Regions from separate parts of the Homo sapiens genome. Here region 2 is linked to region 1. A link means that fine-mapping ties the variant in region 1 to the expression of a gene that starts in the linked region. Tissue or cell type: skeletal muscle. Region 1 holds a variant in brackets; the other region holds the start of a gene. All regions are shown on one strand. Distances are between the middles of the regions.

Region 1 (8,181 bases):
GAGAAGTGAATCAGATTCTGGATATGTTTTGATGGTGGATTATAAAGGATTATCTGACGATTTTGACTTTGAGGGGTTTGTATATTCAAGAATAAATGAAATAATACACAGTGCTTAACACAGGCCCTAGCACATAACCATTGTTGTTTTAAGAAAGGCTTTCTAATCCTACTGCTGTAGCTTTTCCCACAAGATGCTGGTGGGTTGGGCTAGCAAAGCAACTCACTACTTGGGTGTCTGGGCACAAGGTCTGGGACTGTCCCCGAGGCCAGTTTCAGGAGGGAAGGATGTCTGCGGGCATGACCCAGGAATCTGAGAGACCCTCGTGGCTGCAGTTGGGCTTGAAACCAGTCAAAAACTCACTCATTCTACCCATTCCTGTACAGCAAATAGTGACCCATTGCCTATTACGAGCTGAAAATTACTCTAGAATCTGAGTGAAAAGTACCAACAAGAGACACTGTGCACTGCCCTCATGTTGCTGCTATTCTTTCCACTGGGATGTGCAAAGAATGTGAGGTGTCTATTTTTCTTTGGCTCTTCTACCTTTCCCCACATGACCGGCCCCACCCTGCTGGGAATTGAGGACATTTAAATGGCTAAATGATAATGCCACAGTCCCTTCCCAGTTAAAAGCTCAAGTGGGCTGGGTGCTGTGGTTCATGCCTGTAATTCCAACACTTTGAGAGGCCAAGATGGGAGGATCACTTGAGGCCAGGAGTTCAAGACCAACCTGGGCAACATCTCTACAAAAACAAAAAACAAAAAAACAAAAATAAAAAACCAACCAGTTCTAGTGGTGCACGCCTGTAGTCCCAGCTACTCAGAAGACTGAGGTGGGAGGATCACTTGAGCCCAGAAGGTTGAAGCTGCAGTGAGCAGTGAATGCACCACTGCGCTCCAGCCTGGGTAGCAGTGAGACCCTGTCCCAACAACAACAAACAAACAAAAAAACAACACCTCAAGCACTTCAAATTCCCTTCTCCTGCCCAAGATGGATTATGGATGACATCAGGGTTTATTGCAAGAAGCAAGGTGGCAAGAAGGCCTTGATGCTATGGGCCCCTTGAGTCTGGCTGTTACACGTTTACGTTGGTGCAAAATGATCTTCCAGAAGCCTGAGTAAAGAGCAAAGTCCCCCTCTTTCAGTGTCTTCCTCGTTCTATATGGCACCCCCACCTACATCTGGGACACTGTCTTAGAGAAGGGAGGTCACCCTCCATAGACCTCTGTTGCTGCCCCTCCTCACCTCCCTCTTCTTCAAGCATCCTCTTTCTTTTCCTTTCTTACCAGAATATCCTCTCCTCTTGGCCTCCTCCTACTGGATGTGGCCCCCCTTTCCCATTTTTCTGGGACAATAATGACAAAATGACTTCCAGGTAGGGTTGAAAGATTTACAAATAAATGGGTTATTGTGTTTTGTTTTTTGAGATAGGGTCTTGCTCTGTCACCTAGGCTGGAATGCAATGGCACGATCACAGCTGACTGCAGCCTTGACCTCCCAGGCTCAAGCAATCCTTCCACCTCAGCCTCCTGAGTAGCTGGGACTACAGGCATGCACCACCACACCTGGCTACTTTTTTTCTTTATTTTTTGTAGAGATGGGGGTCTCATTTTGTTGCCCATGCTGGTCTTGAACTCCTAGTCTCAAGTGATCTTCCTGCCTTGGCCTCCCAAAGTGCTGGGATTAGAGGCATGAGCCACTGCACCGGCCTACAAATAAATTTTTAGATTAAGTTTGTCCCATGCTTCTTTGGGACGTATTTATGTTAAAAAGTTATCTGTTGCTTATCTGAAACTCAAATTTAACCGGGTGTCCTGTATTTTATCTGGCAACCCTACTTCTAGACAACCTAATTGTCGGCGAGAGGAATGAAAAGTACAGCCATTCAGTATTTTCAAAATATTATGCTTAATACAGGGCTTACCTCCTTCTGGCCTCTTGTCTGGACAGACTTACACAGGCTTCAGAAAGAAGGTAGGTTTCTCCCTACCTTCCCCCCTAGCATGGGCTATTCTGTTCCTTAGAGGAGCCCATTGTGTCTGTTGTGTGTGAGGGGGGTGGAGTTGGGGGGAGGATGGAGGAATCAACTCTGGTTTTCTGCCCTTCCTCCCCCAATCACACCAGGCAGGCTTCCCTGGGATGTGGGTAGCCCCATCCTGTCGGCAAAGCAATTGCTTACCTAGGATTTTATGAGGACATTTTTATTGAGCTGTAATTGAAAAAAAAATTCCAAGACATTCCAGATTTTTCTCATAAGCCTGCTTCAGGTGTGTATGCATGCGTGTGTGTGTGTGTGCGCATGTATGAACATGCATATACTTTGGCCAGACCACACCGGCGTCTTTGTTGAAAAAGTGAGGAGGTTTCATGTAAGGCATTTTACTTTTCTCTCCTTTTCTCTAAATTAAGGATCAGAATAAAGATCAGTAGGGATTCTGGAGAGCCTGCAAGAATCTTTTCATTAAGCAAATACTGCAGTAGCTGGAGAATCTGAGTGTTACGTAGGAGGGCTGTGCTTGTCATGACAGCCTAATATCCTAATGGAAGTTGACAACCATAGTTACGAAATCTATAATAGAATGCAGAGCCTGTTATCTCTGTGAAACTGCTTGGCAAAAGTTTGTAAATTATATACATATATTTAAAGAATGTGAAGTAAAGCCAGATGAGGGTCTTTTAGACTCAAATGGCCCTGTTATGTCCTCCTGCCTCACTCACGCACCTCCCCCCACTGCTGTTCTGAGAAGCTGCAGGAAAAGACAGCGTCTCTCTTGGGGTCTGTGTTACCAGCCCTCCCACCGCCCACTCAGGAAGGATGGAGATACAGGTCTTCCTTCTGTGCTCTTGATTGTCTCAGCAGAAGGAGAGATACTCAAGCTTGTACTGAGCGCCTACTATGTGCCAGGCACTGGGCTGCTTTGTTATTTCCACCCTCCCAGCAGAGCTGCGCAAGGCTGTTAATCCTTCCCACTTTGACACTTGAGGAACCTGAGGCTCAGAGGAGTTCAATATCTGCTCAGGTTCACACAGCTGGTCGTAGCTCCTGATCGCAGGAGGAGTCGCAGCGAAAACCCGAGTCCACCCGTGTCCAAGGCCCGGTTCTTTCTACCTTTCAGTTCCTGCCCCAGGCAGCGGCGCAGCTTGGTGGTGGCGGTGCGTGGGTGGCGGGGTGTGTTACGATCTCCTTGCTGGAGACATGTGGCTGCTTCTCAAGAGGGACAGCGCTGGATGGAGAGTGAGTGAGATCGGCCACATACCTCTGTGTGGTGCCCATTTCTGGGACAGTCCTGGATCCATCGACCCGCCATCCTCCCAAAGGTGCTCCCTCTCTTCAGGTGGTGCCCATGGTCCTATCAAGGTTCAAGAAGTGAATGATGAGTTTCTTTCAGATGCCACAAGGTGGACCCCCACTCAGGTGACCTCAGAGGTTCATGAGTAACACACTTAAGAGCAAGGACTCTGCTGGGCAATGGGAGTGCCTCCCGGCATGGCCATGGCTCCCTGGCCGGCTCCGCATGGGTTCTCAAGTGCAGACTGCTCTGCCTCCCAGTGCTCTGGTTACGGAGACTCTCCTCTGCTTTGCCTCTGAGGTTCCTGTGGCTGCAGCTGCCTGCCTCTGGTTCTTGGTGACTTCTGCTGCCTTCTGGCTCCTGCTTCCTGATCTCTCTCTCCAGGCACCTTCCAACCCAACCTGCCACCTCTGACTCTGTCTCCCATTCAAACTCTCCCAGAAAGCGCCTCACTGGGTGGGCAATTCCCCGTCCTGTCAATGGCAGCTCTTACATGAAAGGGCCTCACAGGCCTCTGGCTACCTGTGGGTCAGGAGACAGAACAGTTAAGACCAGGTTTGGGGCAAGTAATGGAGACTTCAAAAATAGTGGCTTAAACAAGATAAT[C/A]ATTTCTCTCTCAGAAATTATAAACTTTGCTTATTTCTCTCTCAAGATAATCATTTCTCTCTCGCTCGTCCTGGACTGCAGAGGCGGTTCAGGACAAGCAGGGAGCCCCACGCTCACATTCACACTCCAGGCAGCACCACGGAGGTGATTTTTTTCTTTTTTTTTGAGATGGAGTCTCCCTCTGTCGCCCAGGCTGGAGTGCAGTGGCACCATCTCAGCTCACTGCAACCTCCCCCTCCAGGATTCAAGTGATTCTTCTGCCTCAGCCTCCCTAGTAGCTGGGACTACAGGTGCCCACCACCATGGCCGGCTAATTTTTGTGTTTTTGGTGGAGACAGGGTTTCATCATGTTCGCCAGGCTGGTCTTGAACTCCTGACCTCAGGTGATCTACCCGCCTCGGCCTAGTCTTTCCCTTTCAAAGAGACTTTTCACAAGTTCCACACAAGAATTCCACTTACGTTTCATCTGCCAGAATGTAGTCATTTGGTCACACTTACCTGCAAGGAGGCTGGGAGATGTTCTACTTTAGCTGGGTTCATGGCCACCCAGATAACACTCGAGGCTCTTTGCCAAAGTAAAGGGGAGAATAAATATTGGGAGGCAAGTAGAAGTCGCTATCCAGCTCCAGACAAAGATTCTTGGCTTGACCAAACTTCAGTCAGGCTCCTGAACCTTCTTCTCGGCCCACCTGTGCACTTCCTGGTAAAATTGAGTTTTAGCAACAACCCTGCTAAGTCAGTTTATCAGGAACTCCTCCCTGCCCCCGCTCCCTTGCATATCTGATCAGGTTTCTCCTCCTCCACCCTTCTTCAGGTGATATCGAGCCATCCTGGCCTGTTTTCAGCAAAAATCCTATTAGGCTAGTTTAGCCAAAATCCCTCTTATCCCTGATATTTCCTCTTGGTAATTTTCCTTCCACTAACTCTACCCCTCTCCTTGTCTATAAAGTCCCACTTGTCCATGCCGTATTCAGAGTTGAACCCAATCTCTTCTTCCCACTGCAAAATCCCACTGTTGTGGTCCCCATACCCATCTCGGTGGTCCTGAAGTCTTCCTTTCTGTGCTTTAACAAGCATCACCAATTTTTTTTTTTTTAACAGGGCTCATCCTAATGCAGCCGTCTCTGGCTAGGACAGCAGATCCACCCTGTAAAGAGTTTGTGAGGCCAGGAATCCCTCAGAAAGGGGTGCTGGCACGATGGGTGCCTTGCACAGGCTGGACAGAGTGCTCATTCATATTCATGTGGCATGGCTGCAAAGGAACCAGAAGAGCCTCTTCACCCCACTCCCAAGCTTCCCCCTTAGCACTGCTGCCTGCAAGTTCATCACTCAAATGAAGTGATGCCTTCTCCAGCACTCCTTTTAAAGTGTGCCCCTGATCCTGGGCCCTCCCTCACAATCACTATCCAAGTCAGGATGGTCCTAGCAATCACTATCACTAAGCTGGAGCCCACAAGCCTAGTCTGACGGGGTCATAGTCATGGGTCCCAGGAGCCCCATCACAGGCTCAGAGGGTCCAGGAGGCAAAGCCCAAACACCTGCACAGGTGTGAAAGGGAAAGGGTTCTGAGGAGGGAGCGGGAGGGTGGGGGTGGGGGAAGAATGGGCTGATGGAAGGCTCTGAAGTAGCAGCCGGAGCGCAGAAAATCTCAGAGGAGGGGAAATGCTAGCAGCTCCCAAGGAGAGAGACCAGGCTGACCTGACATCATACGGATCAAGAAGCACGGATGAGGAGATGAATGCAGACACCTGGGGGAATGAGCTGAGAAAAGCAGAGTGATCTGAGGCAAAGGAGAATAATGGTGGTGGTTCCTCCTGCTTGGCAGGGAGGGTAGTACCTGGGGAGGATGTCATGGGGTAGGCCAGTTCCCCTTGAGTTTTCCCCAACCAAGTTTCCCCCAAGGCCTCCCTGGTTACGGAGTCCACACTGCAACTGCCCTCCCCACCCCAGGGCAGAAAGCAGAGGAGGCAGTCATCAAGGACTGGCTCTGAGCTAGAGGCCAGCAGAACCCCCAGGAGGCCTTGCCGAGGGCAGGAAGGAGGTCTCGGGCCTCTCAGCTGGAGTTTATTGTCCTGGGAGGAAGGTAGGATGGCGGGAGCTTAGGAAAGAGCTGGGGATGTGGATGAGGAGTGGGGAAAGGTTCTCTTTCTGGTAGCCTCTCCACCCTCCCCATCTCAAGGCCTTTGCCACCAATATCCCCCTTGGGCCCCTAACATCTTTCCTGGTCTCCAGTGGAGCTCTATTGCCGTCTTCATTCCCCTGTAGACACAGGGCCTCTCATCTCCATGCACTCAGCACCGGGGTGATGGATGTAGCCGCCCTGTCGCTTCCTCACTCACACACTCCTCTGGAGGCTAATGAAGTGGCTACAAGCCAGGGCTGCTGGTCAGACCTGGCTCTGCCCCTGTGCTGCTTACCCATTGATGTGTAACAAACTACCCCAAAACTTAGTGACTCCAAACAAGAGCATTTTCTGATATCTCATTTTAGGTCAGTAATTCAGGAGGGTTCAGTAAACAATTTTGCTGTTCCATGTGGCATTGACAGAGGTCACTCTGTGGTATTTCGCTGGCAGATATGCTGGTATGGAGTAAACAAGAAAGGGTCACACAAATGTCTAGTGTCTGGGCTCAGTGAGGCTGTCAACCAGTTGGCCTACCCATGACCAGTCCAGCATGGCAGAGTGGGGCACAGGCCGACTTCTACAGGGTGGCTCAGGATTCCCAGAGAGCACATTCCAAGAGACCCAGGTAGAAGATGCAAAGTGTCTTATGACAGCCTCGGAAGCCCCAGAATGCTGCTTCTGCTGCATTCTCCTGGCCAGCAAGTCACTAAGGCCAATCCAGAATGGAGGCTCACGAAGTGTTTAAGAACACAGGTTCACTGACTGAGTTGGTAGTATGATTCTACCCTGCTAGCTAAGCAACCTGAGAAACTTTACTTAAGCTCTTTAAGCCTCAGTTTTCTTATCTGTAAAATGGGAATAACAACATTATCTACCTCTTAGGGTTTATGAGAGTTTAATTGTATATACATATATATAATTTCTAAATTAATACAAATGTAAAAATTATACATATAAATTATACATGTGTGTATGTGTATGTATATATTTTGTTTGTTTGTTTGGCATTTAGTTTTTATTTCATAATCATAAACTTAACTCTGCAATCCAGCTGGGCATGGAAGGGAACAAGGAAAACATGGCACCCAAAGGGAACTGCAGTGAGAGCACAAAGATTCTAGGATACTGCGAGCAAATTGGGTGGAAGGATGCTCTCCTGAGTTACAGAAGGAATGGTCTGGAGGTTAAGATAAAACACAAGTCAAACTTATTAGAGTTGTCCACAGTCAGCAATGGTGATCTTCTTGCTGGTCTTGCCATTCCTGGACCCTCCATGGCCTCCACAATATTCATGCCTTCTTTCACCTTGCCAAAGGCCACATGCTTGCCATCCAACCACTTAGTCTTGGCAGTGCAGATGAAAAACTGGGAACCATTTGTGTTGGGTCCAGCATTTGCCATGGATAAGATGCCAGGACCTGTATGCTTTAGGATGAAGTTCTCATCATCAAATTTCTCCCAGTAGATGGACTTGCCACCAGTGCCATTATGGCATGTGAAGTCACCACCCTGACACATAAACCCTGGAATAATTCTGTGAAAGCAGGAACCCTTACAACCAAATCCTTTCTCTCCAGTGCTCAGAGCACGAAAGTTTTCTGCTGTCTTTGAAACTTTGTCTGCAAACAGCTCGAAGGAGACACAGTCTAAGGGCTCGCGGCGATGTCAAAGAACATGGTGGGGTTAACCATGGCTGATAGTACAGGGCTCCTGCCAGTGGCTGTGGCGTCTGCAAAGCCTGTTTTTGTTTTTTTTAATGCCCGCTGTAGAAAGCTCATGATCATCAATATCTGCAGTTTCCTCTTCTTCTTGGGCACCACCCTAGACTATTTCCTGGCTTCCCCTGCAGTTAGGTGTGGCCATGTGACTGGTTCTGGCCCATGGAACTTGAGGGGCAGTAGTAGACCTGGCCTCCATTCCTCCATGCTTACTCTCCTGGCCCTCCATCTACCTGTGTTTGAATAAAAAATAAAGCATGGCCTGGCCAGGTGTGGTGGCTCATGCCTGTCATCCCAGCACTTTGGGAGGCCAAGGCAGGAGGATCGCTTGAGTCCAGGAGTTTGGGAACAGAGTGGTAACATAGGGAGACCCCGTCTCTACAAAAAGTCAGCTGGGCGTGGTGGCATGTGCCTGTGGTCCCAACTACTTGGGAGGCT
Region 2 (8,172 bases), 130 kb after region 1:
CGGGACAACTCGAAGTGGGGAGAGGGCTTCCAGGTCACAAGTAGGTGAGAGACAAATGGTTGCAATGAGTTTCTGATTAGCCTCTCCAAAGGAGGCAATCAGATACGCATTTATCTCAGTGAGCGGAAGGATGACTTTGAACAGAATGGGAGGCAGGTTTGCCCTAAGCAGTTCCCAGCTTGACTTTTCCCTTTAGCTTAATGATCTTGGGGGCCCAAGATATTTTCCTTTCACAGTATGAAGGTTGGGCAGATTTGTTAGCAGCTCCTTCTAAGACACGTGGTTTTGTAAGCTTAGGGTTCCTTGGCTGTGACACGAATGCATGCTGTGCACAGCATCCACCTAAGCTGCTCTGGCATCATCCTTGAGGGACACAGAGGACAGGGGGAATTGAGGCAAAACACGAAGCTTACACTGCCTGCTGGGCCACAAGTAAGAGAGTCTTTTGTCCTTGACCCATACGTCTCATGTCTTCTGCTAGCATCTGTGAGCCTCTGAAACTATGGCAGACTAACTTGATAGTTTGCAAGTAGGGTAAACTTTTGGACCCTCCCCTGTTCTTGACATCTTTACACACACTTGACTGTTAAGTGCCTTGAGAGTAGGGACTGTGTCTCAGTGGACTTTGCTTACCCTGTGGATGACACAAAGTAGTTGCTTGTGGTAGGTAGTAACTACCTACTAATGCCGCTTTGGTCTAAAGGACTTTGGATGTAAGCACTCATATTTATTTACTAAATTCAGCTCTGGAAAAAACTGCCATTATTCCCCTGTTTAGCCACAGATCTTCTTCCCCTGGTCATTAGGTATTGTGTACATTCCTTGGGTTTGCAGAAGGTGAAGCCACAGAGAAAGTGAAGTGCAGGGGGCTACAAATTGCTACAGAAAATTCACATTGTGAATAAGCCCTGCTGCAGGTAGTGGAGGTGACTCATTTATCAGACTGGGTGTTTCGGGGAGGTAGGGTGCTGTGGTGCAGTTGGGATGGAAATGCCGGTCTTTGTTGTTAGCCTCACAATAACATCAAACATACCAGACTATTTCCCAGAAGAGCCAGGATGACTGCAAACCGACCTGTCTGAGCTCGAATGAAGGAATGAATGAGGGCTTCTGGTGCCTGATGTCTTAGAAGTAAATTCTGCTAACCTTTTGCAACATGAGTAAGCCCAGTCATGACCAGGCAAGACAGCTGGCTGGGCTTGCTCATGGGAGGGAAATCTTCCAGGCTGCAGCTTTCATCTGGGTTTTGAACTGTGGAAGCCTATCCTTTTCTGGTTTAGGAGGAGGGTAGAACGTTGAGAGCATTTGAGCAGACATGGCTTTCAGAGCCAGAGAAAGTCAAGGGGGAAAAGGCTTTGCTCAGAGACTATGGCTGATGGCTATTAAAGATCACTTCGTTTCATTTGTCATTTTATAGATTAAAAAAATGAGGTAGGCCGAGCGCGGTGGCTCACACCTGTAATCCCAGCACTTTGGGAGGCCGAGACTGGCAGATCACGAGGTCAGGAGATCGAGACCATCCTGGCTAACATGGTGAAACCCCGACTCTACTAAAAATACAAAAAATTAGCCGGGCGTGGTGGCAGGCACCTGTGGTCTCAGCTACTCGGGAGGCTGAGGCAGGAGAATGGCGTGAACCCGGAAGGTGGAGATTGCAGTGAGCCGAGATCGCGCCACTGCACTCCAGTCTGGGCGACAGAGCGAGACTCCGTCTCAAAAAAAAAAGAAGAAAACCCAAAAAAACCACTGAGGTCTACCGGCGACATTATTGGATAGATGACTGCTTTGGGAGTTCCAGTTGAACCCATTTCTATTTCATTAGACTGCTCATTTTTTCTTTTTCCTTTGGCTCTGTTAAAAGAAAAAATTACAAAGAATTTAGTTTAAACATCTTAACTGGCTTTTAGTTCCAATTCTACAATTGGGCAACGCTTCATTCTGTAAAATGGAATGAATGTTCCAATGAGAAGAGGAAGTTGGTATTACAGACAGAAAAGGACCGAGGAAAGCAGAAACAAAAAGTGGATTAGTTGGTAGAAAGTTACTTTTCTTGTAAAGGTTAAAGAACACGGGACTTCTTCATGCCAGCTAAAACTGACCTGTTTGGGGATTTTTGTTTTGAGACAGGGTCTTACTCCAGCGGGCAGGCTGGAGTGCAGTAGTGGCACCATCTAAGCTTACTACAGCCTCAACCTCCCAGGCTCAAGCGATCCTCCCTCCTCAGCCTCCCAATTAGCTGGGACTACAGGCGCCAGCCACCACGCCCGGCTATTTTTTTTTTTTTTTTTTTTTTTTTTGGTAGAGGCAGGGTATTACTATGCCTAGGCTGGTCCGGAACTCCTGAGCTCAGGCGATCCGCCCACCTCGGCATCCAAAAGTGCTGGTATTACAGGTGTGAGCCACCGCGCCCAGCCTGTTTGGGGATCTGGCTAGCATCTGTTTCTCTCCTGATTTCTTGGAAGGTCAGATAAAGATCCTAGCTTTGGCGTGGTAGTGTGAAACTTCAGCATGAGTAACCCCATTTTGGTTTGGTCTGATGGGCCTAATGCAGGAGGTCAGTCTAAACTAACGGTCTCCCATATACATTTTATCTAATAGCTCTGTCACCCTTCCTGCACACCCGGGGAACTCGGGTGCGGCATTCTAACGCCTGCTCAGCATGATTCCACATTTTCTCCAGGCCCATAATCCAGAGGAGGTTGGGCCCGGAGCAGGCTTGCCTCGCCAAGCTCCGGCTCCGTGCGTGTGTGAAGCAGTGCCATGCCTGAGTGGGGAGGAGCCGCGGAAGAGAAAGCGTAAGGCGGCGTGGAAATGGGTGGGGCACGCTAGGACCCGCTCACATTTGTTCAGGGAGAGGCAGTCCCAAAAAGCCTCTCAGGCACACAACCCAGCACAGCAAGGCAGTCACACCAAGGTGGGAAAAGAGGGCAGAAGAGCGCGAGGGGCTGGAGGTGGCGCCCCTGTGTCCCACTCGTTCTCCCTGGGCTGGGAAAGAGAAGCGGTCCCTCAGAAGCGCAGGCTGCGCTAGCTTAGGATGGACGTGGGTAACGCTCAGCTGACTCCCCGCAGGCACCCTATGCAGGGCTTTGTTTCGGGGGGGAACCCGCACCAGCGCGTAAGGGGAGTAGGAGAGATCTACGTGACCCTGGTGCGCAGCCGCGCCCTATCGCCCCGGCCACGCGCCGACGCCCCGCCCCGTCCGTGACGCGTTCGCGCGGGGCCTCCGCCCCATCCCCCTCCCAGGCGGTCCCCAGCGCGCTGCCTCCGCCGTTCCCCGCCCCCTCGCCTCTGAGGCTGCCCGGATAGCTGCCTGATCCAAGGCCCAGCAGCTTCTGCCTTCCGGATCCCCACCGACGGACGGAGGCAGCCCACCTGCAGGACCGGGGCGCTGTCGGTCCACGTGGCCGCTCTGGAGCAGGTTGGAGTTGGCAGCGGGCTGCGCTGCAGGGACAGGCGCGGCGGACAGCCCCGGGGGCAGCGGCGGGGTCCTGTCTGGGAGAGGACAGGGTTGCGGCGGGCGGAACGGTGTCTCCTTCACTTCGCCCTCCAGCTGCTGGAGCTGCAGCCCGACCGCGAGCGTGCCAAGCGGCTTCAGCAGCTAGCGGAGCGGTGGCGGCGGCCCCCCTCAGGACACCACCAGGTACCGCCGCGCCCGCCTCACGCCGACCCAGGGGCCTAGGCCGCGGCGGCCAAGCCGGAGGCCCGCGCCGGACTCGGAGTCGGCCCTGGCTTCCTAAGATGGCCGCGCTGCCCCGCGGCCCCTCGCCCCTCTCTGCCCGGGATCTCCCTTTGGCCCTTTGACCCCAGCTTACCGCACTTCTTGTCCCTCCCGCAGATTCCCCTCTTCCCGCGGCCTCGCCATGGCGACCCACGGACAGACTTGCGCGCGTCGTAAGTAAAGCTGGGATCTCTGCGGGATGGGGCGGCGGAGAGTCGAAGCCTGTCGACCAGAAACCCAGTTTGTTTCCCCCTATCTTTCCAAGAACTTGGAAATTCGGCTGCTTTTGGTGGTCGCCCCACCGTCTGACCACCTCCTCTGCGGAGGAGGGGCTGGGCTGCTGGATTTCAAATGGGGAACAAGGCCCGGGGAGTTGGTCTGTGGCCGCATGGACTTTTCAGCCTTTGTACATGTCTTTGACGTATAGAAGTAAAAAGTTGTTAATTGGGGATTCTGCCTTTGGAGGATCGGATCAATCACTTTTCTAGAGGAAGTAGCAGTCCCTCTTGTGAGAGCGCAAGGTCATTACTTGTGCTCCTAAGGGCGTGGACGTGCTTTGTGGAATGAATGAGCTGGTGTAATGAGCTCAGATTGCCTGCCCTTAAGCAGCACAGCATTGGCCGAGGACTTGAGAGTCACATTAGTAAGTTTGAAGCGCTATTTGATATTTAGTTGATGTAGACATTTGAGTGAAACACACATGGCAGTATTTTTTCCAAGTTTCAATATTTAAATTCCCAGTATTAAATTCTCTTCCCACTCCAGGGTGTTGGTTTTCCCCTCAGCGAAGATATTAAAGGACGTATCAGGGTAAAGGGCCTAGTCTTAGGTTTCGGTTTTATCTAATTTAGTTAAATCAGCTCATCTCAGTGAATTTTGGCAGATACATAAATATCCATACACACAAATACTTGTTTGATTCTTTGTACTTGTCCAGTCCTAGGAAGTGAGGCTGTAGGTAATAGACTGTTTTTCCGTTTTGAAACGAATTCCCCAAGTTTGTATAATCATGGTTATCTGTTTTAGAAATAATTCGTTGGTGGTATCTCCTTTATGGGTCGTTATAGTTCTATTGTAGCTCCTGACCGCATAAAAAACATTCCAACAAATGGGATTGCTTGAATTTTAATATCAGCAGTGGGTCATGCTCTTGTTCTTGGATAGAAGGTGGGAGAATAGAGACATTAACACTGGAATGTTTTTTTTCTACCAGCAATGTGTATTCCTCCATCATATGCTGACCTTGGCAAAGCTGCCAGAGATATTTTCAACAAAGGATTTGGTAAGAACCTTATTTTTAAAACGTTTTAGATAAAGAGTGAAAATGTATGTTTGGGTTGCTTAGCGAAATCAGATCAATCATTGCAAATTGTAAATATCTTGCTGCTTTAAATTTAGAGTTACTTATTTTTTTGAGACAGGGTCTCCCTCTGTTGCCCAGGCTGGATGCAGTGGCATGATTATACCTCACTGCAGCCTGGACCTCCTGGGCTCAAGCGATCATCTTTCCTCAGCCTCCCACGTCCCAAGTAGCTGGGACTACAGGCACGCTCTGCCACACCTGGCTAATTTTTTTTATTTTTCGTAGAGGTGGGGTCTCACTGTGTTACCCAGTAAACACAGTGGCCTCTCAAAGCCTGGTTGGATTACGTTACAGACATGAGCCACTGTGCCCAGCCTTGTATTAATTCTTCTATTAGAAACTTAAGATACTTAGATTAAACTTATGTGAAAATAGTTCTTTTACAGTCTACATCCCCCTCCCCCAATTTCCCAAAATTTTTAAAAACTGTACTTAGAAGATTTGAGCCTTTAAGAAAAACGGCTCGTGCTTTAATTTTTTTTCAGTTATAGCTTAGGCCCTGGTTGACTAGAGTTACGATATATTACTGTTTTGCTTTTGTGGTGACTCCTAATACTTTATCTAGAGTTATGAGCTTTTTCAGGTGAATTTGAGTTTTCTTGAAAATTTTGTTCCATACCCTCCTCCCCTTTATTTAGACTGTTGGAAATACCCCATTGGCATAAATGTCCTAAATGTCTGTATTATGATAAGTTGGTTTTGTTTTTGTTTTTTTTTGAGACGGAATCTCGCTCTGTTGCCCAGGCTGGAGTACAGGGGCGTGATCTCGGCTCCCTGCAGCCTCTGCCTCCTGGGTTCCAGCAATTCTCCTGCCTCAGCCTCTCTGGTAACTGGGATTACAGGCACATGCCACCATGCCCAGCTTTTTTTTTGTATTTTTAGTAGAGACGAGGTTTCACCATGTTGGCCAGGCTGGTTTTGAACTCCTGATCTCAAGTGGTCTGCCTGCCTCGACTACCCGAAGTGCTAGGATTTCAGGCGTGGGCCACCGCACCTGGCCATATCATGATAAGTTATTAGCTATTCTGAAATTTCAGTTGAATGATTTTTTAATCTGATATTTAAGTTTAAGAATAGTTTGGGGGCTGGGCGTGGTGGCTCACACCTGTAATCCCAGCACTTTGGGAGGCCGAGGCGGGCAGATCACGAGGTCAGGAGATCGAGACCATCCTAGCTAACACGGTGAAACCCCATCTCTACTAAAAATACAAAAAATTAGCCAGGCGTGGTGGCACGCACCTGTAGTCCCAACTACTCGGGAGACTGAGGCAGGAGAATCGCTTGAACCCAGGAGGTGGAGGTTGCAGTGAGCTGAGATCGTGCCACTGCACTCCAGCCTGGGCAACAGAGTGAGACTCCGTCTCAAAATAAATAAATAAATAAATAAATAATTTGAAAGCATTCTTTTGTGTACCAACTACCAAAAACTAGACAAAGCAGCATAGGGATAATTCTGCCCTTTATAAGCCAGTTTACAAAAGACGAATTTGTAACAATTTCATTTAAATATTGTATATTAACACATTTTTATCCACCTCTGAATATGTGGAATCTTTTTGTTTTTTATGTATAGTCAACAATTGCTATGCATCTTTCATACAAAGGAATCATTTTGTTTCTTTTGCTGTCTATTTGTTGAAGGTTTTGGGTTGGTGAAACTGGATGTGAAAACAAAGTCTTGCAGTGGCGTGGTGAGTGTTACTGTTGAATAAGTTCTATTGAACCTTTATAATTTTTCAACTTGTAAAATGGTCATAACTGAAAGATGTCTACCTGTTTTGTCTTAAAGAAGAGGCAGAAGTTAACTTTGTTTTAAGAGATTTGCGTGTAACCTGATTTATTTTGGCCTTGAATGTGATTTCTGATTTTCATGTGGTCTTTCGTCATATTATGTATGCACAAGGAACTTAGGAAAGACCAGTCAGGTGGTACTCTTTACTCGTAAGATTACACATTTGAAGGCAGGGAACCCATTATTAGACTTTTTTGTAACCCTTTGTCAACAATGCTCGTCAGAGTTATGGGCATAAAAATATCAGGAACTCATTAATTTGAGTGTACTAATCATTTATATAATGTCCATTTTCTAGCAGTTCTCCCTGGAGAAGATTTCCACATGTATTTTATGAGTTTAGGGAGTCCTGATCTGAATTTTTTTTTTTTGAGACGGAGTCTCACTGTGTCACTTAGACTGGAGTGCAATGGTGTGATTGTGGCTCACTGCAACCTCCGCCTCCTGAGTTCAGGTGATTCTCTTGCCTCAGCCTCTCTAGTAGCTGGAATTACAGGTGCCTGCCACCACGCCTGACTGATTTTTGTATTTTTAGTAGAGCTGGGGTTTCACCATGTTGGCCAGGCTGGTCTCCAACTCCTGACCTCAGGTGATCCACCCACCTTGGCCTCCCAGAGTGCTGGGATTACAGGTGTGAGTCACCATGCCCAGCCAAGAATATTTTTAAAGAGGTTAATATTTTGGTATTTGGGTGTCTTGATAGTTCAATGAACTGTTTACAAAGGGGATAAACTAATATTTAACTTTTTTCGAGACAGGGTCTCACTCGGTTGCCCAGGCTGGAGTGCAGTGAGTGCAGTGGCACAATCTCAGCTCACTGCAGCCTCGACCTCTTGGGCTCAAGCAATCTTCCCACCTCAGCCTCCCAAGCATCTGGGAGTACAGGCCGTATCCATCATGCCTGAGTATTTTTTGTAGTTTTTCTAGAGATGACGTTTTGCCATGTTGCCCAGGCTAGTCTTGAACTCCTGAGCTCAAGTGATCCACTTGCCTTGGCCTCCCAAAGTGCTGGGATTACAGATGTGAGCCACCATGCCCAGCTAGTAAAATTTAACTTTGTGAAATTTTTTTTACTTAAAAAATTTTTGTTTTGAGATTATTTTAGGGGTGGGTGTGTGTGCACATTAGAATACTATAGGTTATTTTGATATATGTATGTATGTATATATATAGAGAGAGAGAGACTTTTTTTTTTTTTGAGACGGAGTCTTGCACTGTCACCCAGGCTGGAGTGCAGTGGCATGATCTCAGCTCACTGCAAGCTCCACCTCCCAGGTTCATGCCTTTCTCCTGCCTCAG

What was found. PIP is the estimated chance that this variant, and not a neighbour inherited with it, causes the effect.
Region 2: it holds the start of VDAC2, and the variant in region 1 is fine-mapped to the expression of VDAC2 in skeletal muscle (GTEx, PIP 0.97).

Annotation. Positions count from the first base shown.
Region 1 is chr10:75,082,010-75,090,190 of GRCh38, forward strand. It overlaps the pseudogene PPIAP13. Among named protein-coding and RNA genes, the nearest start is that of DUSP29, 12 kb to the left of the region's middle. RefSeq lists enhancers at 335-835, 2,843-3,343. The variant C/A (reference allele first, on the strand shown) is at 3,901.
Region 2 is chr10:75,207,299-75,215,470 of GRCh38, forward strand. VDAC2 (voltage dependent anion channel 2) reads left to right here and starts at 3,498. Exons shown (of 10, transcript NM_001391963.1): 1 at 3,498-3,640; 2 at 3,836-3,891; 3 at 4,932-5,000; 4 at 6,723-6,772. The coding sequence starts at 3,861. RefSeq lists enhancers at 1-508, 2,821-3,402, 3,133-3,427 and silencers at 673-967, 3,072-3,381, 3,402-3,771.